Homo sapiens: one gene and its partners. The protein of the gene in region 2 purifies or fractionates together with the protein of the main gene of each other region. This does not show direct contact. Each region holds a gene or a part of one and is shown on either strand. Other genes may lie near its edges.

Region 1 (3,500 bases), on a different chromosome or scaffold from region 2:
TCCATATAGTATTAACATCTCACCAAAGAGCAGGACTGAAGGGAAATCAGTGTTACTTTGTAAAGTACTGTACCATAATATTTAAGGAAATATAAAAGGGCAGAACTTGAACTTTGATTTATTCTGGAATTGTAATACACACATACAAACACATATACACTTTTTTGTTTACTTATTTTACTAACCATGGTATTCTAAGACAATTAAAATGTATTTGGGATATAAATTAGGGATTCCAATTTCACTTAATAGATATTTATATCTTAAAATGATCAAAAAACAATAAAAAATTACAAACCTTTTGGGCTTCCTTAATGAGCTGATCACAATAATCAAACCAGGAAAGAAATGAAATTAAGGCTCGTTTTCCTGGAAATGCTGAAGCATCTTCTTTATGACTATATGAGTCCAAGCTGTAAGACAAGGAAGAATTGCTAAGTCCAAAGTTATCCAAAAGCATGGACCCTATTCAGAATGTATGGAAAAATGAAGGCACATGAACACACTCAGATAGTATGGTACATTCACACAGGAAATGCTGGAGGACAGTGAGAAGAGGATTCTGTAAAAGAAACCAAAGATAAGAGAAAATCTTTTAAATAAGAGCTGTAAATAATTTTCACGTATTAAGTAGGAGAAGAGAGGTTAAAGCAGAATGGAACTGCAGGAGGCCAGGTGTGGTGGCTCATGCCTGTAATACCAGCACTTTGGGAGGCCAACGTGCGTGGGTGGGTGGATCACTTGAGGTCAGGAGTTCGAGACCAGCCTGGCCAATATGATGAAACTCTCTCTCTCTCTCTACTAAAAATACAAAAAAAAAAAAAAAAATTAGCTGGGCATGGTGGCTCATGCCTGTAATCCCAGCTACTTGGGAAGCTGAGGCACGGGAATCACTTGAACCTGGGAGACGGAGGTTGCGGTAAGCCAAGATTGCTTCACTGCACTCCAGCCTGGGCGACGGAGCAAGACTCCGTCTCAAAGAAAAAACAAACAAACAAAAAAACAGTGGAGCTGCAGGAGAAAAAACACTGGGATAGCTCCTCATACTCCTGCCCTAAATGTTACCAAGTAACATCAACGAAAAGATGGAGGTTCTCAGCTGCTGGGATGGAAGAAAAGAACGGTAAATGGGGATCTACAAACAGAAATAGCGAGTGGACTACTTCTCTTCCTGCCCTAAAATGCAATACAGTCATAATGTTAACAAGTGGGTCTGCCCTATAGATGTTGACAGAAAATAGAGTGGAAAAAAGAAAGACACGTTAAAAATACAGAGAAATACAATAAAAGGTGATTATGTCAAAACCTTAGGCTGCTTACAGGTGGTGGGACTATGGGCAACTTGTTTATGCTGCTTTATACTTTTTAATAATTTATAAACGTTCTGCAATAATCATATTTCCCTATGATAATCAAGTTGGGGAGTCTAAAAGGTAGGAAGAAGAGGTGAAAGAATGAGGTAGAAGAGATTCTGTACAAACAGGCCAGGAGACAGATTAGACTGCTCTAGAGGCTGTGGAAATTATTTTAAAAGGAGATTCCTTCTTTGAGGGTTTTTTGTTTTTAATAATCAGTTAAAATTATTGATTTTAATGTAAGCCCTTAAAAATTGATCAGTAAAATGGACAAAATAAAAATATCTTAACTATGTAACAGCTGGATTGTTCCCACACCAATTCATTACCACTGATTAATACAAGCTTCAAGAAAATATTCCCATTTAATGATCACTAGTGGTGTTCAATTTTTCAAAGACTTCTACCATTGCAAAATAGAAATGGATTTTAAAATGTAGGTGTTAAGAAGTCACCTTTATGGGAAAATACAAGTAACGGTGCTTACCCCCAGTTAATTGCTTCCACGGTTTCAATATCTAACGGATCCACTGACTGAGGTAGGGCCTTGTACAGGGAGGCAAGTCTGTCTGTCAGTAGTTCACACAAGCAAGTGCTCTGTGTAAGGCACTTTGCAGCCGCAGGCTCTGGCAAACTTACTAACAGCATCAAGCCTTCACATGCCTTCACAGCTATTCTGCCATCCTAAAGGAAAAAAAAATCCCCCTTCAATTCTTGAATTGTATATACATCAGGTTGTTTGAAAACATTCAACATAAAAGGATTTAATGTTTCACACTAAAAGAAAAATAGATTTTTGTCTATTTTAAATGCATATTATTGGCCAACTGTGGAGCTTCACACCTGTAATCCCAGCATTTTGGGAGGCCAAGGCGGGTGGATCAGCTGAGGTCAGGAGTTTGAGACCAGCCTGGTCAACATGGTGAAACCCCATCTCTACTAAAAATACAAAAATTAGCTGGCGTGGTGGCGTGCACCTGTAATCCCAGCTACTAGGGAGGCTGAGGCAGGAGAATCGCTTGAACCCAGAGGCGGAGGTTGCAGTGAGCCAAGATCGCACCACTGTACTCCAGCCTGGACAACACAGCAAGACTCCATCTCAAAAAAAAAAATAAATTAAAAATTAAAATTAAAAAAATAAATAAATACACATTATTGAAATAATGTTAGGGGGGAAAAAGTAAGGACCATAACTCACAGGACTTCTAGTAAGATTTAACAAAGAATTCACTAAATTGTAATCCTGATTTGGACAAACAACCGAGGCCTCTGGCAGTGAGGTGACACTGAGGTTATCCAAGCTTGTGGACAGGTGATCCATCTGATGAGGAGGCTCATCTTCCAATTCTGTTTGCTCCATTCCAGTAGCACCAGATAGTTCCTCTGGTTGACGGGACTGTCCTGTATCTGTTGACAAGGAATCCTGACCTTTTAATGTATCTTCTGAAATTACATTTGGTACTCCTTTGGAAGCCAATGATTTCATCTTATTCTGAAAAGGAATATATGTTTTATAAAATTCACATCAATAACTTTTTAAGCCAAAAATAATATTTTAATGGATTTTTCTATAACATTCCACATGCCTAGCCAAAGTAGCAATAGATGTTATGTCACATGAAAATATTCTGACTTTTAACAAACTGTGTTTTAGAATGATTTTACCATTGCATAGGAGTTTATCACACTCCTCATACTAACTACAAAATGTTTTACACTGACCATAAGCAATGAACAGTATTACTGATAATTTGACTACTGCTTAAAACAACTAATGTTAGTGAGGAAAAAAGTTTCAGGAGGTTTCAATTGCAGTTAACTTTTTTCTCATCACTGGACTACTGTAACTACATAGTCTCAATGTTAATTCTTATAAGATCATAGGGTGGGGGGGGTGGTTTGCAGGGAAGGAAGTACAAACTTACAAATAAAAATATTTTAAAGTTCAAAAGTTACCAGCATTAGACTGAAGGTTTCCACAAAAGCCCCCAAATTCTCTCAAATATATAAGCATCTTTTCTAAGTTTTTCCTTAAACCTCTACTCTATAAGAACGCAAGAAGCTGGGCACAGTGACCCATGCCTGTAATACCAGCACTTTGGGAGGCCGGGGCAGGAGGATCACTTGAGCCCAGGAATTCGAGAC
Region 2 (3,500 bases):
AAAATATTCCCTTCTTTGGGAAAAGCCAATTAGACCTGCCCATATCAAGGCACATTCACCCTTGGTGAGAGACAGTGACAGAGGTGGCTCCTGGGAGTGAGCAAGAAGCACAGGCCGACAAGAACATGTGCTGAAGAAGACCTGGGAAGTTTCTTGATCCACCCATAGATCCTCCATCCTTCCTCTGCACTCTCCCTGACATCTTTCCTCCCTCTGTCTATGGTAATAGGAACTCAAAGATCTGACTAGGGAAATGTTATTTATTTCAACTTGAATTTACAATGTAATTTGCTTGGTTATCACCTAGGATTCTTACTCCTTAGAAACAATCAGAAATATGTGGTTCTTATTTTATATTCTTCCCTCCATAATCTTATTTGGAATGGGAATATAAATTAGTGTAGCCATTATGAAAAATAGTACACAAGTTTCTTTAAAAATTAAAAATAAAATACCATATGATCCAGCAATCCCACTACCAAGTATATATCCAAAGAAAATGAAATCAGTGTGTCAAAGAGATATCTCTCATCCAGGTACTAACCATGCCCAACTCTGCTTAGCTCCTGAGGTCAGACAAGATAGGGTGCATTCGGAGTGGTGTGACCATAGAAGAGATAACTGTACTTCAATGTTTATTGCAGAATTATTCACAATAGCCAAGATATTAAATCAACCTAAGTGTCCATCTGCAGATGAATGGATGAGGAAAATGTGCAATATATACACAGTGGAATACTATTCAGCATAAAAATAAGGAAACCCTGTTGTTTGCAGTAACATGGATGAACTTGGGGGACATTATAACAAGTGAAATAAGCACAGAAAGACAAATACTACATGATCTGACATATATGTGGAATCTAAAAAAAGTCAAATTCAAAGAAGTAGAGAGTAGAATGGTGTTGACCAGTGGCTGGGGTGGCGGGGGTGGAGGTGAAAAGACGTTGGTCAAAGATTACGAAATTTCAGTTAGACTGGAGGAATACGTTCAAGAGATCTCGTGTACAACATGGTGACTACAGTTAATGAAAATGTATTTTTGAAAAATGCTAAATGAGTAGATATTGTGTTCTCACCACAAAAATGACAACTGTACGAGGTAACATATATTTTAATTTACTTGACTCAGTCATTGCACAATGCCTATATATTTCAAGACATCATGTTGTACATGACAAATATGTACAATTTTATCTGTCAATTAAAACATAAGATCAAAAAAGAATTTTATTTGGAAAAAGTTTAAATATGTTTGGTTTGCCTTGGAAACACTATGTGAAGAAGGCATGTACACTTGGCAGTTGTATTTACAGAATGTGAACACACTGTTAGCTACCACATCATCCTGTGCCCCTCATGAAAACCCACAGGAAAAAATATTCTTTAATCTCAATTCTAGAAATATTGTTATCTTCTTGGGCTTCTAGCCTATTGTCTGTTGTGGATTCTGAATTTTATTATCAATTTTGTTTTCATTTTTGCTATGATCAGGATGAAATTTGGAGACAGGTATGGTTCACCATTACCAATTATATAGGGACATTTAAAGTATGATTTTAGACTAACTTCTATAGCTCTATTTTACTATTTTATCCTTATATTACAGTCCCTCAATCTTCTTTTTATTCATTTTACATCATTTAATTTATACTCCCCAAATTTCCCAATCTCCAGCCTTAGGGCTCACCCTTTATTCAACACACCCATGAGAAATCCAGGGAATGTAAAGTATGAATTCACAGGAAAGGAATGTCTCTGCTCTCTTAATGGGTTTTGATGTCTGAACGCACCTACAGATTCTGGCTCAGCAATGTAGTCCCCCCATGTGCCTACTCACTGATGGCTACTGTCTTCTCTCTGTCCCTTTCATCTCACCCTTGAGCACAGTGGTCTCCTTGTCACTACCCAAGTGACTTTTGATGGGTAATGGAGGAGAATTATCACTGAACTGAACAGAAGCCATTGAAACTCAAATATCATAGATGGTTGTTACAAAGTTCCTTGACCGTTCTTAGTAAAGGTTGTGTCTTAGTCACTTTCTTCTTTCTTCCGTAGGCTCCCTTCTGTTGCCACATTTGGGCCAAGGAATGGAGAGATTTCTTCGTCTGGAAACATTTTGCCAAACTCTTCAGATACTCTTTCCTCTCTGGGAATCAAAGGAAAATCTCTACTAGTGTGTTATTCAGAGAAATTTTGTCCACTCTTTGCTTCAAACTCTCTTATCCAGATCAGCCTTTATTATGAAATAGCCGAAATATAGACCAATAAAGGGAAAACCCAGACATTCATATAAAGGGTTAGCTCTCAGGTTCTTGTATCTGATATATTAACCCAGGTTAACATATAAGTGATGGCAAAGAATCCAGTGCAGTAATGTGACTTGTATTCCTTTTTCCTTTTTTTTCTTTCTTTCTTTCTTTTTTTTTTAGGATGGAATTATCTTCTAAGTTTCAGAGGTAGCTTAACAACTAAATGGAGGTGAAAACTGCTTTTCTTGGTTTCTTTCCTTATAAATGATTCTCTTCATTGCAGGATCTTACACATTTGTTCCATGGCTTCTCAGCTTTAAAAGGGGAAGTGCCCTAGAAGAAAAAGAGAATAAAATATTGGTCAAAGAAACTGGTTACTTTTTTATATATGGTCAGGTAGGTTGAAACCCTAATTCTGGTTTTACTGTTCAAAGCCTCCCATTTTGTGTTCATTTCTGACACAGTTTTTTGGTTTGTTTCTTAGGTTTTATATACTGATAAGACCTACGCCATGGGACATCTAATTCAGAGGAAGAAGGTCCATGTCTTTGGGGATGAATTGAGTCTGGTGACTTTGTTTCGATGTATTCAAAATATGCCTGAAACACTACCCAATAATTCCTGCTATTCAGCTGGTAAATATTAGTTCTCACACCCTGCTAATTGTGAAATGAAGAGACTTTGACGAAAAATCTGAGCTGCAAAATGCAAAAATGAAAGGATGGTGCCCTAAAATACAAATAGACAGAAAGACATTCCTCAATATATTGTGTTTTTTAAATCTTGAATAATAAGCTAGTCTGTTTTAATTGAGAAAGATGGAATTATTACTAATAGTTTTACCATTTTTATATACATTTAGAAAGGGTAGTAATTTCATAGCAACTTCTACCTTGTACATAATACATGGTACATAGTACTTCTACATAGTAACTTCTACATTGAGAAAAAATTCTAATGTATTTTCTTCAACACTTAATAACAACAATAATAATATCTGACAAGGATAGAGTGATTACCACTTGCCAGGCACTCTTTTCTGCATGTTATATATGCTTGCTTATTTAATCTTCGCATTTAAGGGAGTTAGGATCTAGGCACAGAGAAGTAACATAACTTGTCCCAGGTTACACAGCTAATTTTTAGACTTGGTTTAAACCAGCCAGTCTGGCTCCGCACCGGGAGCAACCAAAACTCTTCTTGCATGCTGTGGAAGAAATGCCCCTGGCCAGGCTTGAGGGTAAGGGA
Region 3 (3,500 bases), on a different chromosome or scaffold from region 2:
TCTCTGCTAATTGTATTCATCTTTATTGCATGAAAAACACAAAGTCTAATTTTGGTGCACAGAGTTTATTCTAAGAAACCATAAAATTGATATGAAAGTGTAACGTAGGAGTGTCATTTCATTATTGCTTTTGCTCCTTATTTACTAGTAAATTCACTTCTCTGAGTTTTATTCATATTATCATCTATACTGCCAATCTCAATTGTTTCTATGAACTGTTCTCTGATAGAGCAAAATCTTTTAAAGTATCAATAAATGTCTGTTGATTGTGAGGGTCTCAGATGACCTCTGTTAGGTGAAATTAAGAATATCTTCCCAAAATTCTGTTCTAGAAATTCCTGAATTGCCTGTATTTCATCTAAATTCTTCTGGCACAAATACTGAAGATTCTGAACTTACCGACTGGCTGAGAGTGAATGGAGCTGATGAAGACACTATAAGCCGGGTAAAGAAAACTGTCTGTGGGACAAGTATTCTTTCACTTCGTTTCATAATGTTGGGTGCCTGCTATGTGACAGGCACAGGGGATACACTGGTGAGCAAATCAGACCCAGCCCTGCCCTCCTGAGGCTTACAGACCAGGGTAGGCACGTGATAATCAGCTAACTCCACAGATACAAATGTGATTCTACACTGGTAAATTCTATGAAGAAAAAGGTATCAGGTGTTTATTAGATAGGGCGAGAGAGGTTGGGGAAGGTTGTTGGAGAAGGGAATGAAAGAGCTGAAGGCTAACAGAATGTGAGGGTATAAATAGGCCAATTGTATGTATGTTCAGGAGGGGTGTGGGAGGGAGACCAGGGAAGAACCTTGTGCAGTGGGGCTGCAGTGTGTACAATCCAACGAGGCAGGCAAAAGCTCTGTGGTCCTGAGCCCCTTAGGAATTTTATGTATTTGAAATGAAAACCAGAAAGAGTGGGAAAAAAATAAAGACAGGACTAAAAGAAAAAATTTCTTGTTTCTAATTCTTTGTATGTTAATTTTTATTTTATTTTATTTTATTTTATTTTATTTTATTTTATTTTATATTTTTTTGGAGACAAGGTCTCGCTCTGTTACCCTGGCTGGAGGGCAGTGATCATAGCTCCCTGCAGCCTTGACCTGCTGGGCTCAAGTGATCCTCCCACCTTAGCCTCCTGAATAGTTGGGACTACAGACATGAACCATCATACCCAGCTAATTAAAAAAAAAATTTAGAGATAGGGTCTCGCTATGTTGCCCAGGCTGGTCTTAAACTCCTGGCCCCAAGCGATTCTCTCACCTCAGCCTCTCAGAGTACTGGGGCTACAGGCATGAACCACCACGCCAGGCCTGTTTGTTAAATTTTTAATTCTTTTTCAACATTATTAGATTCCACTGGGCAGCAGCTATTTTATTGCTACTTAATAAAATCAATCTGGTCGACTTATTTCAGAAATATTTTCTATACAAACCATATTTTACCTGTAATAATCTAATTCCTCTCTGCTCTGTATAGACTTTTTTTGATTTTGTTTTTTGAGACACAATCTCACTCTGTCGCCCAGGCTGCAATGCTGTGGTGCGATCTCAGCTCACTGCAATCTTTGCCTGCCAGGCTCGAGAGATTCCCTGCCTCAGCCTCTCAAGTAGCTGGGATTACAGGCATATGCCACTAAGCCTGGCTAATTTTTGTACTTTTAGTAGAAACAGGGTTTCACCATATTGGCCAGGGTGGTCTCGAACCCTGGCCTCAAGTGATCTGCCCACCTCAGCCTCCCAAAGTGCTGAGATTACAAGTGTGAGCCACTGCGCCCAGCCCCTATAGACTTTTGTAATGAGCGTGAATAGCATTTGTTTATGTTCATTATATGAACACACAGGCATACATTAAAACATTGTAATATTTGATAGAAAGACCCTCTTAATACAATATTGTTTTGTTTTATATTTAAATTTTAAAAATAAATAAGAATAAAGATATCTCTTCTTTTGACTTGATAATTTATTAACTAAGTAGAATTTCGGGCCGCCTTAGAAATCTACATTTAACAAGTTACAGCTGAATAAATTTAAACAACTCCAGAATATACATTCCTCTAACTTAGGCTCAAATCCTAATTAAGGAATAGTAATTGATAATCTACTAAATAATCACCCTTTTTATTTGGTTTAAAAGTAAAAGCTTGAGGCCAGGTGCAGTGGCTCCTGCCTGTAATCCCAATACTTTGGGAAGCATAGGCAGATTGCTTGAGGCCACGTGTTGGAGATTAGGCTGGTCAATATAGTGAGACTGTCTCTATATATAAAAAAATAAATAAAATTTAAAAATATAAAGGTGCAGTTTAAATTAAGACTCTGCTTTTATGGTGAATTACAGTCAAGTGCCTTTGCTTAACCATGAAAAAATAAGTTCAGAAATTAAGCATAGGCAGTACCTTTCCAGGAACACTTTTTATCCACTTGAGGAAAAACAAAGCTATGTAGCATTGAACTTCTAAATACAAGATTTGCTTTTGAACAGCAGAGTGATTACAAGTGAGTCTCATCTGTTCATTAGAAGACCATTCAGAAGTTCTGTGTCACTTGTAATCTTTTTGCATTTGGAAGTTAATATGGATGCATTTCTTGTTTTTGTTTTTGTTTTTGTTTTTGTTTTTGTTTTTTTGAGACGGAGTCTCACTCTGTCGCCCAGGCTGGAGTGCAGTGGGTCAATCTCAGCTCACTGCAACCTCTGCCTCCCGGGTTCAAGCGATTCTCCTGCCTCAGCCTCCCAAGTAGCTGGGATTACAGGCATACGCCACCACGCCCAGCTAATTTTTTGTATTTTTAGTAGAGATGGGGTTTCACCACTTTGGCCAGGCTGGTCTCGAACTCCTGACCTCAGATGATCCGCCTGCCTCAGCCTCCTAAAGTGCTAGGGTTACAGGCGTGAGCCACTGCGCCCGGCCTGGATGCATTTCTTTGTATTTATTGAGTAACAGGGAGGCCTTTCCCCTAATAATCCTGGAAGATTGTGTTTTTAGTAGATTTCATTTTTAGATTCATTTTTAATTATAGTCAAGGTTTACATTATGAATAGAGTTTGTGCTTTATTAAAGTTATATAAAACATCTTTTGTGCATATTCTACTTTCTCTACAGTTTTTGGCTGAAGATTATACACTATTGGATGTTCTCTACTATGTTACACGTGATGACTTAAAATGCTTGAGACTAAGGTACCACTTTTCTTTCTGTTGTCACTATGGAAAGAGCACCAGGCAAATATCAAAAAGTCTGAGTATCTTCCCAGGCTGGGTCTCTAATTAGCTTTGTAGTTCTGGACAGAGCTCTCTAGCTCTTAGCTGCTCTGAGTAAACTGAGTTAGTTGGACAATGATATTTTTGAGGGCTCTAATAACCAATATTTCTATATTAGTAAGTGAAAATCAACTGGAAGAATTTTTTTGAATAAGATGCAGACTAAGTCCATGCAGATATTCTGAAGCTGCCTTAAACAAATGCTTTAATTGAGTTCATGATGGTGTTATACTCAATAAAT
Region 4 (3,500 bases), on a different chromosome or scaffold from region 2:
CCACCATTTTCCAGCTTTACTACCTTATGCAAATTACTAAACCTGTCTATACCAGTTTCCTCATCTGTAAAATGAAATATTTAATATGGCATGTTGCATTAGAGTCTAAGGATGCAAAGTTCCAAGCCTAGTGGGAAGGCAACATTTTATTCAACCTTGAGTTAACTTCATGAGACTAAAGGCAATTTCTCAATTATTTCTGTGTTCCTGCTGTGCTTTTTTAGGAGACTCATAAATTTCTGTTAAATTATAACAGTAACAGCAAAACCTTCTACTTCATACATGGTTGAAAATGTTCAGCTATGCTTACATAAAGGAAAAAAGAAAAATAAATCAAATTTTGAAATATGTCTTCCTTTTTGGCTTATAAGTTAGAGAATATGTCTTTTATTTTTTCTGTCACCAAAGCACAGGTAATCATTTATTTCAGTTTATAGCTTTCAATATATAAAGCATGAATATATTATATTACGCTTATGGGAGAAAGAACACAATGTCAAGAGGAAGAAACCACATTATAAAATACTAAACCAAAACAGATCCCAAGTAAGCTCGTAAAGATTATCCAGCCCTCATCTTCAATGTCATAAGGTCGTGCAAATGAGGTGTTAACCCAACCAGGAGAGCCAATGACATTAGTCACAGTCCCTAAATATCTGATTAAATGGCAAATCCTGTCACAGTAAGTAGAAGGCATCTCTTTCACTAGGGGTCTCCCTAAGCCAGTTAACAAAGCAAAACACCTGGATACTGAGGAACTCTATCACAAGAAACCTTTGCTTTTCTCTGCCAGCCAATTTCTATTAGGCCTGAATGGGTAACAGGAAACTTAAACTACATAGCCTAGGAAGACTACTTGCACTTTTAAATTATTTATACCCTTACTGATTCTGCATCATTTAAAAAGAGAGAAAAGGAATCTATCCAATTCCCTAATTCTGACCACCTAAACTCAAATGAACTTCTTTCCCTTTACTCTTCTACCACCCATTCCCTGGACTTCATCATCCTCTAGTGCTGGGCAATCTGAAATGCAATATTCCCACCATTGTCCCAACTCCTATCCTTCTAGCTCTCTCACTCCCCAACCCCACTGCTCTTTGATGAAATAGGTGCTGCTAGCCTTTAACCTTCCCATCATCATCCAGTCAATCCAAACTATTGGCTTTCCTTCTTTGGGAATCCAACCTAGCTCTCACAATCCACCATTATTTCAACCACTCTTCCTGCTAAGACTCTTAAGTGTTCCAAGACAATTTCTCCTCCACTTCTCCAAAGTGATCCACTGCTCTCCTCAAACTTGCCACCCCCTACTTCTTTTATCACTTAATTATTCCTACTAACAAGCTTGTTTCTTATCTTCGCAAGAAAGCAGAGGCCACAGACCAAACTGCCCACAACTTGTCGCTCCCTTCTGTCAAATTTGTCACATTCAAACCCGGTTTTTCCTTTGTCCTTCCTCTGTCAGAAGGTAATGTGTCCTTTCTCAGATTGAAATCCTGTTCATATACTTATGCCACTGAAACTTCAGTTTTCTCAAGGACCTTCCTCTAACGAGTTTTACCTTTCTCTCCTGTATCTTTAACCTCAGTCTGCCCAGCAGCCTTTTTCTTTAATGTTGTTTCCCACAGTTCCTTTTCCAGTCCTGATATTCTCACTCTATACACACACTCTTCCTGGCCCATTTCATCCAATTCTATGGTTTCAAATATTATTTATAAACTGATACTCCTAAATTTGAAATTCCAGACTTCCCTCTTAAGTGCCAAACCATCATTTTCAAACACCTACTGGTCAGTTCCACTTGGATGTCACACATAAATCTTAATATAATGACTACTCTGCTGGGTGTGGTGGCTCACGCCTGCTATCTCAGTACTTTGGGAGGCCGAGGCGGGCAGATCACCTTAGGTCAGGAGTTCGAGACTAGGCTGGCCAACATGGTGAAACCCCGTCTCTATTAAAAATACAAAAAATTAGCCAGGTGTGGTGGCACGCGCCTGTGATCCCAGGTACTCAGGAGGCTGAGGCGGGAAAATCACTTGAACCTGGGAGGCGGAGGTTGCAGTGAGCCGAGATTGTGCCACTGTACTCCAGCCTGGCAACAGAGACTCCGTCTCAAACAATATACACACATGACTACTCATTTTCCCCCAAAACATTTCCTCCTCTTTTATTTCTTCTCTTAGTGATCCACCTAGTTTCCCAAGCCAGAAACCTGGGAGGCATCACACATTTCTCTCTCTCCATTATATAAAAGATTACCATGCCTTGGTAATTTTTACCTTTTCAATCTATACGCTCTTTCACTACTGTCTAACTCAATGCAAGCAACCTTCTGTCTATGTCCACTACTGCTTCAAAACAGAGAATCATCATTTTTTAAACTTTGCTCTCTTTGCTTCAGTCTCAATACCCTCTAATTCTTCCTACCAACTGTCAAGGCAATGTTACTAAATATCAATTTGATCATATTACTCTCTTTCAAAAAGCTCTAATGGCTCCAATCATCTTCAGTATAAAATTTATTTTACATGGAATACTAACAACGTGTGCTATTTCCTCTGCTAGGAATGACTCCCCTCCTCCAACTTCCAGGCTCAGTTAGATACCCCTCATCTGTACCTGCAAATAGGAAATAATAAGAAAGTTTTTATTCATGAAATACATAAACATAAAGCTTCAGAGTTGTCTTCCTCTAAAGGCCACTGAATATTAATCACATAGAAGTGATCATGGAAGGCTTCAAAGTAATTTTTAAAACAAAGGAAAAAATTTCATACAATATTCCCAAATTAGCTAGTACAGTTGTACTAAAAAAAGTTATACTGCTAAAACATGAAGATTTATGTATAACAACTAAGAAAAATAGAAAAAAAGAGAAAGAGGTTATTATAAAATGACAGAATAAAGCCATAGCCACTACAACAACAATTTAATATACAAAGGATAGAGTTATAAATGAAAACAGTAAGGTAGGAAAAACCATGTAGAAGTCCAAAGACAGTAAGTAAATATCAGTAAATAAAGCACTATTCTTTATCAATACTCTTTTATTGGTTTTTCTAACAGATTTGAAATCTTTAAATCCAGCTTATTATTAATTTTAAAAAAGAATTACATGGGCAGCCTGGGATACGCCTATAATCCTAGCACTTTGGGAGTAGGAGGTGGACAGATTGCCTAATCGCAGGAGTTGGAGACAAGCCTCGGCAACATGGTGAGACCCTGTCTCTACAAAAAAAATACAAAAATCAGCTGCGTGTGGTGGCATGCACCTGTAGTCCCAGCTACTCAGGGGGTTGAGGTGGGAGAATCACTTGAACCCAGGATGTCAACGCTGCAGTGAGCCAAGATCCTGCCACTGCACTTCCAGCCTAGGTGAAAGAGATCCTGTCTCAAATAAATAAATAAATAAATAAATAAATAAATAAATAAATAAAATAATAGTCAAGCACTATGGCCATAAAAGACAGAAATGACTAAAAATTTGAAATAAA
Region 5 (3,500 bases), on a different chromosome or scaffold from region 2:
AAAAAAAAAAAGAGAGTTGCCTGACAGGTATAAAAATAATAGAAAATAAAAAATTCAAATGCAAATAGAAACTCAGAAAAATATTAAATCCTTAAAGTCAAAAGACTAAGTCAAAAAGAAAAATTCAAACATCAATGGGAAAACTGACAAAAGACTGATCAAACACAAATACAAATGGTCGCAAATGTATAAAAGTATTCAGTCTTAGTAGTAATTGTTTTAAAATAAATTAAAACAACGTGACAACTTTATTGGTAGACTGGTAAGAAAAGAGTAACAGCCAGTGTGGGGAAGTAAGCACATGCATACAGTATGGTTGAGATGTGAATTGATTGCCTTTGAAGAAAACTATTGGCAGTATCTATTTTTTTAAATGGGGAATAGGGGCAGGAAAAGAGTGAGGAGAGGGAAGAGAGATGAGGAAGGAACAGAGACCAAAACATGGATGACTCATGTTAGTTCTTGACTGGTTACAGTTTTTCACCATTTATTAATCTGCATTTTATAATCTGTTTTATTCTTACAATCAATTTAAACAAGAATTTCTAGGATTCCAATAAAACTGGACCTAATTCCTTGCCTGTTTTTTCCTTCCTACATCTCTCTTCAAAACAATTCTCAGTAACCTATTTTCATGCCCAGCCATAACTCAACAGAAGCCACCCAGAATAATGAGGTGGACCCCTAAATACCTAAGAACTCCCCTATATCTGAAACATAACCACTGCTGCACCCATTCTGAAAGAGACATTACCTCTTGGTAGTGCTGACCACTACTTCATTTCCCATTTGCTAATCAAGAAGCAATACTTCAGATGAGCCCATGTCACCAATCCATAGAAGCATTTCTAAAGGTGGTCCAATTTCGCCCAAAGGTTTGAAAGCACACTACCCTCTCTTGTACACTGCTCTACCTAATAACTTTTGGAATGACAAACATAAACTATCTCAAAGATCTTTATAAATACAGTTAGGTTTCACAGAGCACCTTTGTACCATGAATAATTGCCTAGAAAATCTTCTGCTCCCAGTTTAATCATGCTCTAAAAAGAAAATCCATGTAGGGCCCTTGCCATACCATGAATACAAACCACTAATTAACCTGAATCCATAAAGTTGGCTATGCTATTTCTCAAACTTCACTGCCAAGACAGTTTTTAACTAGCACATCCTTTGATCCAAATGTAATACTAGAACTATACAGAAAAAATCAGCTTTCAAGAACCAAACTGCCATATCACTTTGCAATCATTATAACTGATTTAAAAAATAGTCACAAATTGGCCAGGCACAGTGGCTCATGCCTGTAATCCCAGCACTTTGGGAGGCCAAGTCAGGTGGATCATGAGGTCAAGAGATCGAGACCATCCTGGCCGTGAAACCTCATCTACTAAAAATACAAAAATTAGCTGAGCGTGGTGGCACACACCTGTAGTCCCAGCTACTCAGGAGGCTGAGGCAGGAGAATCGCTTGAACCCGGGAGACAGAGGCTGCAGTAAGCTGAGATCGCACCACTGTACTCCAGCCTGGCAACAGAGTGAGTCTCTGTCTCAAAAAAACAAAAAAACAAAAACAAAAAAAAGTCACAAACTGTTAGAACTAACGAGGGCTTAAATGTCTTTCATTTTATAGGCAGGTAATTAACGAAATACCTTAAGTACGCAGCATTTTTTCTTGTTTCAAATATGGAGTGTTTACTAAAAACTATGTATTTACAACTATTAATGATACACTGATTAAAATCATTAGTTCAAAAATGCATGTTTTATTTACAATGACATCAAAAAGAATAAAATACTTAGGAATAAACCTAACCAAGGAAGTGAAAGATTTGTACACTGAAAACTACAAAACACTGCTGAAAAAATTAGACACAAATAAATGGAAAGACATCCCAAGTTTATGGGTTAAAATACTGTTAAGATATCAATACTACCCAATGTGATCTATAGGTTCAACACAATCACTATCAAAATCCCAAAATCCCAAGGCAAGTAGAAAAGTGCATCCTAAAATTCATACAGAATCTCAAGGGACCCCAAATAGCCAAAATAATCTTGAAAAGGAAGAAGACAGTTAGAGGTCTCACATTTCCTTATTTCAAAACATATTACAAAGCTATAGTATTCAAAATAGTCTGGTACTGGCATAAAGACAGACACACAGAGCAGTTAAACAGAATAAAGTGTCCAGAAATAAACCCTTGCATATATAGCCAATTAATTTTCATACAAGGACACAAAGACTACTCAGTGAAGAAAGGACAGCCTCTTCAACAAATGGAACTGGAGAAACTGGATATCCACATGCAAAAGAATAGAGTTATACCCTTTATCTTACACCATAAATAAAAGTTAACTCAAAATGGGTTAAAGACCGAAACATAAGACCCAAAACTATAAAATGCCTAGGAGAAAGCATAGGGAAAAAGTTCATGACATTGGATTTGGCAATGATATCTTGGATATGACACCAAAAGCAAAAGTAACTATATCAAACAAAAACTTTTGTTCAAAGAATATGATCAACAGAGTGAAAAGGCAACCTGCCAAATGGGAGAACATAGTTGCAAATCATCTGATAAGGGGTAATATCCAGAATATATAAGGAACTCCTATAACTCAACAACAACAACAAAACCTGAATATAACGTGGGCAAAGGACGTGAATAGACATTTCTCCAAAGGAGATATACAAATGCCCAAGAAGGATATGAAAAGACGCTCAATATCATTAATCATTAGAAAAATGCAAATCAATACCACAATGAGATAGCACCTCACACCACTATCAAAACAAAACAAAACAAAAACAACTGTTGGCAAGGGCATGGAGAAATTGGAATCCTTGTGCATTATTCACGGGATTCTGAGATTATGCAACCACTATGGAAATGTGGTGGTTGCTTAAGGAATTAAATATAGAACTATCACATGATCCAGAAATCTCTCTTCTGGGTAGATATGCAAAATAGTTGAAACCAGGGTCTTGAAGAGATATTTGCATACTCAACTTCACAGCATTAGTCACAAGAGCCAAGAGGTAGGAGCAAGCCTAGTGTCCACGGATGGATGAATGGATAAACAAAATGTGGTATATCCATACAATGGAATATAATTCAACCTTAAAAAGGAAGGAACTATAAATGTTGTCTTTTTTATATTTTTATGAAAAAGCAGAAAATTACTTTTGAAGAAAACAGGCTATTTAAATATTGAAATATATGTATGTTGTGAGTTTAAGGAGCCTGTAATTGTCAGTTTTACAAAATCATCCGTGTTCAATGGTTGTAAATAAATTCTCAAAACATCATTTCAAAAAACAAAACAAAAAAAAAAAAAAGGAAGGAACTGTCACATCCTACAACATGGATTAACCTTACAGATATTATGCTAAGTAAAATAAGCAGGTCACAAATCCTGCATTATTCTACTTATATGAAGTATCTAAAGTAGTCAAATTCATAAACACAGAAAGTAGAATGGTGGTTACCAGGAGC
Region 6 (2,321 bases), on a different chromosome or scaffold from region 2:
CCTGCCGGCCTCGTGCCGGAGGACACGGAACTTCACGCCAGCTGCAAGGATAGCAAGCGGCTGACGAGGGGACGCGTGGGGGCTGGCCCCACACATGAGCAGAGGCTGCAGGTACCTTCCTCTCTGAGGGGCACCCGGGTGCTGCTGGCCGTGGCCACCCACGAAGCTCTCCCCGCCCCCTCCGTCGCCCAACTCCTGGAGCTGGCTGCCAGGCCGGCATCAAAGCCTCCTGCAGCCAGGCACGGTGGCTCACGCCTGTAATCCCAGCATTTTGGGAGGTGGGCGGATCATGAGGTCAGGAGTTCAAGACCAGCCTGGCCAACATGGTGAAACCCCATACGTACTAAAAATACAAAAATTAGCCGGGTGTGATGGCGTGTGCCTGTAATCTCAGCTACTTGGGAGGCTGAGGCAGGAGAATCGCTTCAACCAGGGAGGCGAAGGTTGCAGTGAGCTGAGATCACACCATTGCACTCCAGCCTGGGCAAAAAGAGCAAGACTCCATCTCAAAAAAAAAAAAAAAAAAAAGCCGGGCACGGTGGCTCGTGCCTGTAATCCCAGCACTTTGGGAGGCTGAGGTGGGAGGATCACGAGGTCAGGAGTTCGAGACCAGCGTGGCCAAAATGGTGAAACCCCCATCTCTACTAAAATACAAAAAATTAGCTGGGCGTGGTGGCACACACCTGTAATCCTAGCTACTCGGGAGGCTGAGGCAGGAGAATCGCTTGAACCCAGGAGGCAGAGATTACAGTGAGCCGAGATTGCGCCATTGCACTCCAGCCTGGGCGACAAAGTGAGACTCCGTCTCAAAAAAAAAAAAGCCTCCTGCAGACTCCACTGAAAGAAGCCAGGTGTCCGGCAAGCAGGGAAGAGCCCCAGTGAGGGACGGGCGCAGGCTGTGCTGTTGAGTGGACGGGGTTTTCCGGCACAGCGGACGGGGCACTTACTGGATGGTGGCCGCCCTGCTGGCTCCTAGTGCCTCTGACTTTGCCGCGCTTGGCCCCTGGCCTGCAGTTCAGACTCCCAAGCCCAGAAAATCCCAAGGCAGAAGAACAAAGGCCTGTGGCCTCAGGTCTCCAGGGTTCTGAACCTGCGCGGCAGGTGAGTCTCTGAGTCTCTCTCCACCTCCCTGGAGGCAGCTGGTCCTGCAGACCTCTGGGACTAGGAGGCCCTGTCCTCCCTGCCCGCTTGCGCATGCATACCACGGCTTCCAGGCTGGAGGCACAGTGGCCCATGCTGTCCTTGCTTCTGCAGGGCCCACAGGTGTGGTTCCCCTCCACCTACCCAGGGCCAGCTGCCCAATACGCAGCACTTACCCGCCAGCCTGTAGGGCCGGCAGAGCCGAAGACCCAGTGAGTACAGCGGCAGGGAGTTGATGAGGTCCACGAGCAGATGGATCAGGCCCTGCACGGCGACCACCAGGAGCCGGAGCTGTGGCAGAGGAGCATTTAGGACCGGCCCGGCCAGACGCGCCTGGGGGCAGAGCAGTCCGACCCCATCCTGGGCCACGATGAAGGGGGCCCAGAGGCTGCAGGGTCCTGGGGAGAGCAGGGACCCCACCCTGAGCAGGGCACGGAGTCTGCCATTGGGCCTTGCTCTGGAGCAAAGCTGGAGGCGGAGCACCCGGCCCTCTCACCAGGTCAGAGGTGCCTCCCCACAGCCTCACATGCAGAGGGGATCGAGGCCTGGGAATCAAGCAGGTGCTGGAGGTGGTTCTGCTCACCTCCCACTGTCTGCCCCAGTGCCAGGCACCAGGGGAGGCCTCTTGCGTGACCCCACCTGCCGTGGGGTCCTTCCACCACGCACCCAGCTGCGTGCTCCAGGGCAGTGAGGGTGTCTTACTGGCCAGGATAGGGCCTCGCCCACTCCAGAGCGCAGCACTCACTGCCCAGAGGGTCCTGAAAGGCCACCCACGTGGCCTGCAGCAGGAGACAGCCCGCCCCACAGCTGACTGCTCCCAGGCAGCGCTGGCAGAAGCCACACAGAGCACTGCAGCCAGGCCCAGCCTGTGGGTGCTCAGCTCACCAGGGTGAACACCAGGTAGTACAGGGCTGTGGTAGGCAGGAGGAAGAGCAGGATGGTGAAGAGCAGAGTCCCGATGAACAGCTGTAGGGAGGGGCCAGCACACCGGGCATCAGCAGGACCCCGCGCCCAGGGACGGCCCAGCACTGTGCCCTCCCCCATCCCGGAGCTGCAGTCGGGACCTTGCGGCTTCCTGAGGGAACTCGGGATGGCCTGCTCAGAAGCAGTCCCAGTAGCAGGAGGGCTGTCCACCCACACCCCACGGACTAGGGGACTCGCAGGGAGACAGGTGGGGGCCA
Region 7 (3,500 bases), on a different chromosome or scaffold from region 2:
GTTCCATGATTTAAGTACTGAGAGAGAAAGCAAAGGCAGTGTTTTCGGATGGTGATCTGGCTCCAAGGATGAGAAAAGGCATGGCATGGCAGAAGCAAGTAGCAGAAAATGCCACATAGACAACAATGATTCTCAGCTACTGCTCTGTATTGCGGAAGAAATCGGTCTAATAGTAAAGGGCTACCTTTTTTTTTTTTTTAAACCAAGTCTCGCTCTGTCACCCAAGGTGGAATACAGTGGTGTGATCTCAGTTCTCTGCAACCTCTGCCTCCTGGTTCAAGTGATTCTCCTGCCTCAGCCTCTTGAGTAGCTGGGACTACAGGCTCCTGCTACCACACCCAGCTAATTTTTATATTTTTAGTAGAGATGGGGTTTCGCCAAGTTGGCCAGGCTGGTCTTGAACTCCTGACCTCAGGTGAGTCACCTGCCTTAGCCTCCCAAAGTGCTGGGATTAGAGGCATGAGCCATCGCGCCTGGCCTACTTTTTTCTTTTTAAGACAGATGGCTAACATGGGTATGAGAATGGAACATTTTAATTATTTGGATATTGGCCAAAAATAAAGTTTGAGAAAAATGACAGGAAACAAACAGGAAGAATGTGCCTGATACAGAATGCCTGAGGGCATTCTGGACTTAACAATGGGAGCAGTACTCGATAATTCTCAAGGTACAGCAACCAGATTTGGATTCCATTCAAATGCCAAAAACAACCATGAATGGGAACGCCAATTTGGGAAGAAACATAAACATCACGGAAGAATTATGAACTAGGCAATATTAGATTGTCATTAGGTGAAGCTTGAATCGGCCTCTGGGCTGTTTTAGAGGTTCGGATGAGTTCAAGCTGTAGGGTGCAAACAATTTTCACTCAAAGGACACAAGAATATCTGGCCTACCAGTCTAAGTGAACAATATAACCAAGTTAATGACAGGTTTAAAGAGTTTCCTTTATATATATATATATATATATATATATTATACTTTGAGTTCTAGGGTACATGTACACAATGTGCAGGTTACATATGTATACATGTGCCATGTTGGTGTGCTGCACCCATTAACTTGTCACTTACATCAGGTATATCTCCTAATGCTGATCCCTCCCCCAACCCCACAACAGGTTTAAAGAGTTTCTAGAATCCTGGCACGTGCTGAAACATACCTGAGAGGTTGAGGTCTGCAAGGATGACATTGGTCAGGAACCCATGCATGTCAAAATGAATCCTGCCATTTTTCACACTGTCAGTGATGATGGCCTTCACTGAGCCTAGGGCAAGCATGCATGCCTCATGGATCTTCCACCTGTGAAAGGATACTACAGCCTAGTAAAACATACTAAACTGCCAAAAGAGATAAATATTTGAGGAAACAAGATTCAGAAAAGGGCACTCCAGCACAATCTCTTCCAAAAGAGTCATTTACCTTAAGCCCTTCCATTCTAACCTATAGCTGAAAAGAGTGAAATTTTAATAATAAGAGATTAAAATCTGTTATTAAATTAAAACCAGATTTTCAAATTAAGATAAAAATAAATCCATCCTTTCAAGACTTTTTAAGAAGGGGTAAACAAAAGCATCTTAACCAATTAGCGGCTCACTCTTACCAGTGCTCAGTGCCACTGTTTTTGGTTTGCTCAGCTTCTTGTAAATGTCGAGTGGCTGCAGCAGCCAGGGCTGCTGCACTTTCATTCTGGAAATCTGTGGCCACAGCCTATAGAGAGAGAAGAGCTAATAAATCTGTTTGTGCCCATTAAATGCATTTTAATTGTAAACCGCTTCAGTCATGACTGTTAGAAGTGATTGGTTCAAGCTCTTTCACATACATGTGCAAACCCCTAATTGTATTAAAAATGTTATACCAGTAGGTCAGGGTCTCTAATGAAATTAAAGTAGTATCTGTATTTCGGTAGTGCCTAGGCATTGTAAGGCTAACCAGTTGGCTCCTTTGGCTATATTCAGCAGAGCATAAGTGAGCAATAATAGATCTAGCTTTGGATGACAATGGACCAAATATTTGCTCTCTTGGAGACTGATGATAGAAAAATAAGTCTAATCTACTAATTGGAACTGAATATAATCTTTCACAGCTCCTTAGAAATACTAAATGATAATGAGAAGTGATTCATCAACAGAGAACAAATCTCCTACCCAACAAGAAGCAAGTGGCAGTTTCTTCTTAGTATTTCAGCCTAGAGACAACTCTATGCTCTAGTCAGAAGAGGCAAAGAAAACATGAGCAGGTATTTGGATGTTAATCTTTCAGCAATCTGTTTTGTTTTGCTAGGTTTGCCAACCTTTTGTCTGTGCTATAGATTCTTGTTGAAGAGTGAATTAAACTGAAATGGCTTTTTTTTTTTTTTTTGAGACCAAGTTTCACTCTTGTCGCCCAGGCTGGAGCGCAATGGTGTAATCTTGGCTCACCACAACCTCCGCCTCCCGGGTTCAAGCAATTCTCCTGCGTCAGCCTCCCGAGTAGCTGGGATTACAGGCATGCGCCATCACGCCCGGCTAATTTTGTATGTTTAGTAGAGATGGGGTTTCTCCATGTTGGTCAGGCTAGTCTTGAACTCTGGACCTCAGGTGATCTGCCCGCCTCGGCCTCCCCAAGTGCTGGGATTACAGGTGTGAGTCACCACGCCCAGCCATAAACTGAAATGTTCTTGATTCAACTACCCTTACTCCATGGAACACTTTATCCTCTATACAATTCTCCCCCGCACCCCGGCCCTATGGTCTGCACAATTCTTTTATCTAATATTTAGTTTTAAGTTAGAACCAGTAGCAATGATTTTAGAATTTCTGAGTCTCGAATTTCATTTCAGAAACTCTCTTGCATCCCCAATAAAGTCTGAGATAAAGCCACCCAACAACACTGCTCACCTTGGATTAGTTGTCTACAAAAAAGAAGAAATGCTCAAGTGACTGATAGAAATTATGTGGCTGAAGTATCAAGGTAAACTTACCAGCAACAAGTCTTGAGCTGCTATTCTAACAGTATAGGAGAATGTATCATCATCTTCATCTTCTACAAATTGTTGGGGGTTGGCTGTCCATACTTTAATCTGAAAAGATCAAGTTATGTCTTTGTGATGCTGCCAATCTGATTCATAGCTTTTCATCAACAGATACAGGAAGATTTCAACCTATTATCCTGAAAAAACTCTAGCCTTTTGCTGGATGCAATGGCTCACAACTGTAATCCTGACACTTTGGGAGGCCAAGGTGGGAGGACTGCTTGAGCCCAGGAGTTTGAGACCAGCCTGGGCAACATAGTGAGACCCCACCTCTACAAAAAATAAAAAAGTCAACTGGGCATGGTGGCATATGCCTGTGGTCTCAGCTACTCGGGAGGCTGAGGCAGGAGGATGGCTTGAGCCTGGGAGGTCAAGGCTGCCGTGAGCTTTGTCTACACCACTGCACTCCAGCCTGAGCAAAACAGCAAGACCCTGTCCCAAAAAGCAAACAAAACAAAACAACAACAACAACAAAAACTGAAACAAA

The links.
Region 1: the proteins of TNFSF13B (region 2) and FHIP2A purify together in Homo sapiens (affinity purification with mass spectrometry; 4 studies listed by BioGRID and IntAct, with this or other methods). This does not show direct contact.
Region 3: the proteins of TNFSF13B (region 2) and MAP3K5 purify together in Homo sapiens (affinity purification with mass spectrometry; 3 studies listed by BioGRID and IntAct, with this or other methods). This does not show direct contact.
Region 4: the proteins of TNFSF13B (region 2) and MON2 purify together in Homo sapiens (affinity purification with mass spectrometry; 3 studies listed by BioGRID and IntAct, with this or other methods). This does not show direct contact.
Region 5: the proteins of TNFSF13B (region 2) and TMEM131 purify together in Homo sapiens (affinity purification with mass spectrometry; 3 studies listed by BioGRID and IntAct, with this or other methods). This does not show direct contact.
Region 6: the proteins of TNFSF13B (region 2) and PIGQ purify together in Homo sapiens (affinity purification with mass spectrometry; 3 studies listed by BioGRID and IntAct, with this or other methods). This does not show direct contact.
Region 7: the proteins of TNFSF13B (region 2) and IPO9 purify together in Homo sapiens (affinity purification with mass spectrometry; 3 studies listed by BioGRID and IntAct, with this or other methods). This does not show direct contact.

The regions. Positions count from the first base shown.
Region 1 is NC_000010.11:114,842,280-114,845,779, reverse strand, and holds part of FHIP2A (FHF complex subunit HOOK interacting protein 2A), read right to left. Parts: intron 2,848-3,500; coding exon 2,554-2,847; intron 2,040-2,553; coding exon 1,843-2,039; intron 414-1,842; coding exon 299-413; intron 1-298. UniProt on the Homo sapiens protein: Required for proper functioning of the nervous system.
Region 2 is NC_000013.11:108,300,718-108,304,217, forward strand, and holds part of TNFSF13B (tumor necrosis factor ligand superfamily member 13B), read left to right. Parts: intron 1-2,058; coding exon of another isoform or gene 2,059-2,176; intron 2,177-2,535; coding exon 2,536-2,648; intron 2,649-2,736; coding exon 2,737-2,887; intron 2,888-3,500. UniProt on the Homo sapiens protein: Cytokine that binds to TNFRSF13B/TACI and TNFRSF17/BCMA. TNFSF13/APRIL binds to the same 2 receptors. Together, they form a 2 ligands -2 receptors pathway involved in the stimulation of B- and T-cell function and the regulation of humoral immunity.
Region 3 is NC_000006.12:136,558,478-136,561,977, reverse strand, and holds part of MAP3K5 (mitogen-activated protein kinase kinase kinase 5), read left to right. Parts: intron 1-332; coding exon 333-445; intron 446-3,101; coding exon 3,102-3,178; intron 3,179-3,500. UniProt on the Homo sapiens protein: Serine/threonine kinase which acts as an essential component of the MAP kinase signal transduction pathway. Plays an important role in the cascades of cellular responses evoked by changes in the environment.
Region 4 is NC_000012.12:62,469,826-62,473,325, reverse strand, and holds part of MON2 (protein MON2 homolog), read right to left. Parts: intron 2,626-3,500; exon of another isoform or gene 2,548-2,625; intron 1-2,547. UniProt on the Homo sapiens protein: Plays a role in regulating membrane trafficking of cargo proteins. Together with ATP9A and DOP1B, regulates SNX3 retromer-mediated endosomal sorting of WLS away from lysosomal degradation.
Region 5 is NC_000002.12:97,985,949-97,989,448, forward strand, and holds part of TMEM131 (transmembrane protein 131 precursor), read right to left. Parts: intron 1-3,500.
Region 6 is NC_000016.10:579,968-582,288, reverse strand, and holds part of PIGQ (phosphatidylinositol N-acetylglucosaminyltransferase subunit Q), read right to left. Parts: intron 2,107-2,321; coding exon 2,026-2,106; intron 1,432-2,025; coding exon 1,317-1,431; intron 42-1,316; coding exon 1-41. UniProt on the Homo sapiens protein: Part of the glycosylphosphatidylinositol-N-acetylglucosaminyltransferase (GPI-GnT) complex that catalyzes the transfer of N-acetylglucosamine from UDP-N-acetylglucosamine to phosphatidylinositol and participates in the first step of GPI biosynthesis.
Region 7 is NC_000001.11:201,856,657-201,860,156, reverse strand, and holds part of IPO9 (importin-9), read right to left. Parts: intron 3,062-3,500; coding exon 2,963-3,061; intron 1,711-2,962; coding exon 1,604-1,710; intron 1,303-1,603; coding exon 1,163-1,302; intron 1-1,162. UniProt on the Homo sapiens protein: Nuclear transport receptor that mediates nuclear import of proteins, such as histones, proteasome and actin. Serves as receptor for nuclear localization signals (NLS) in cargo substrates.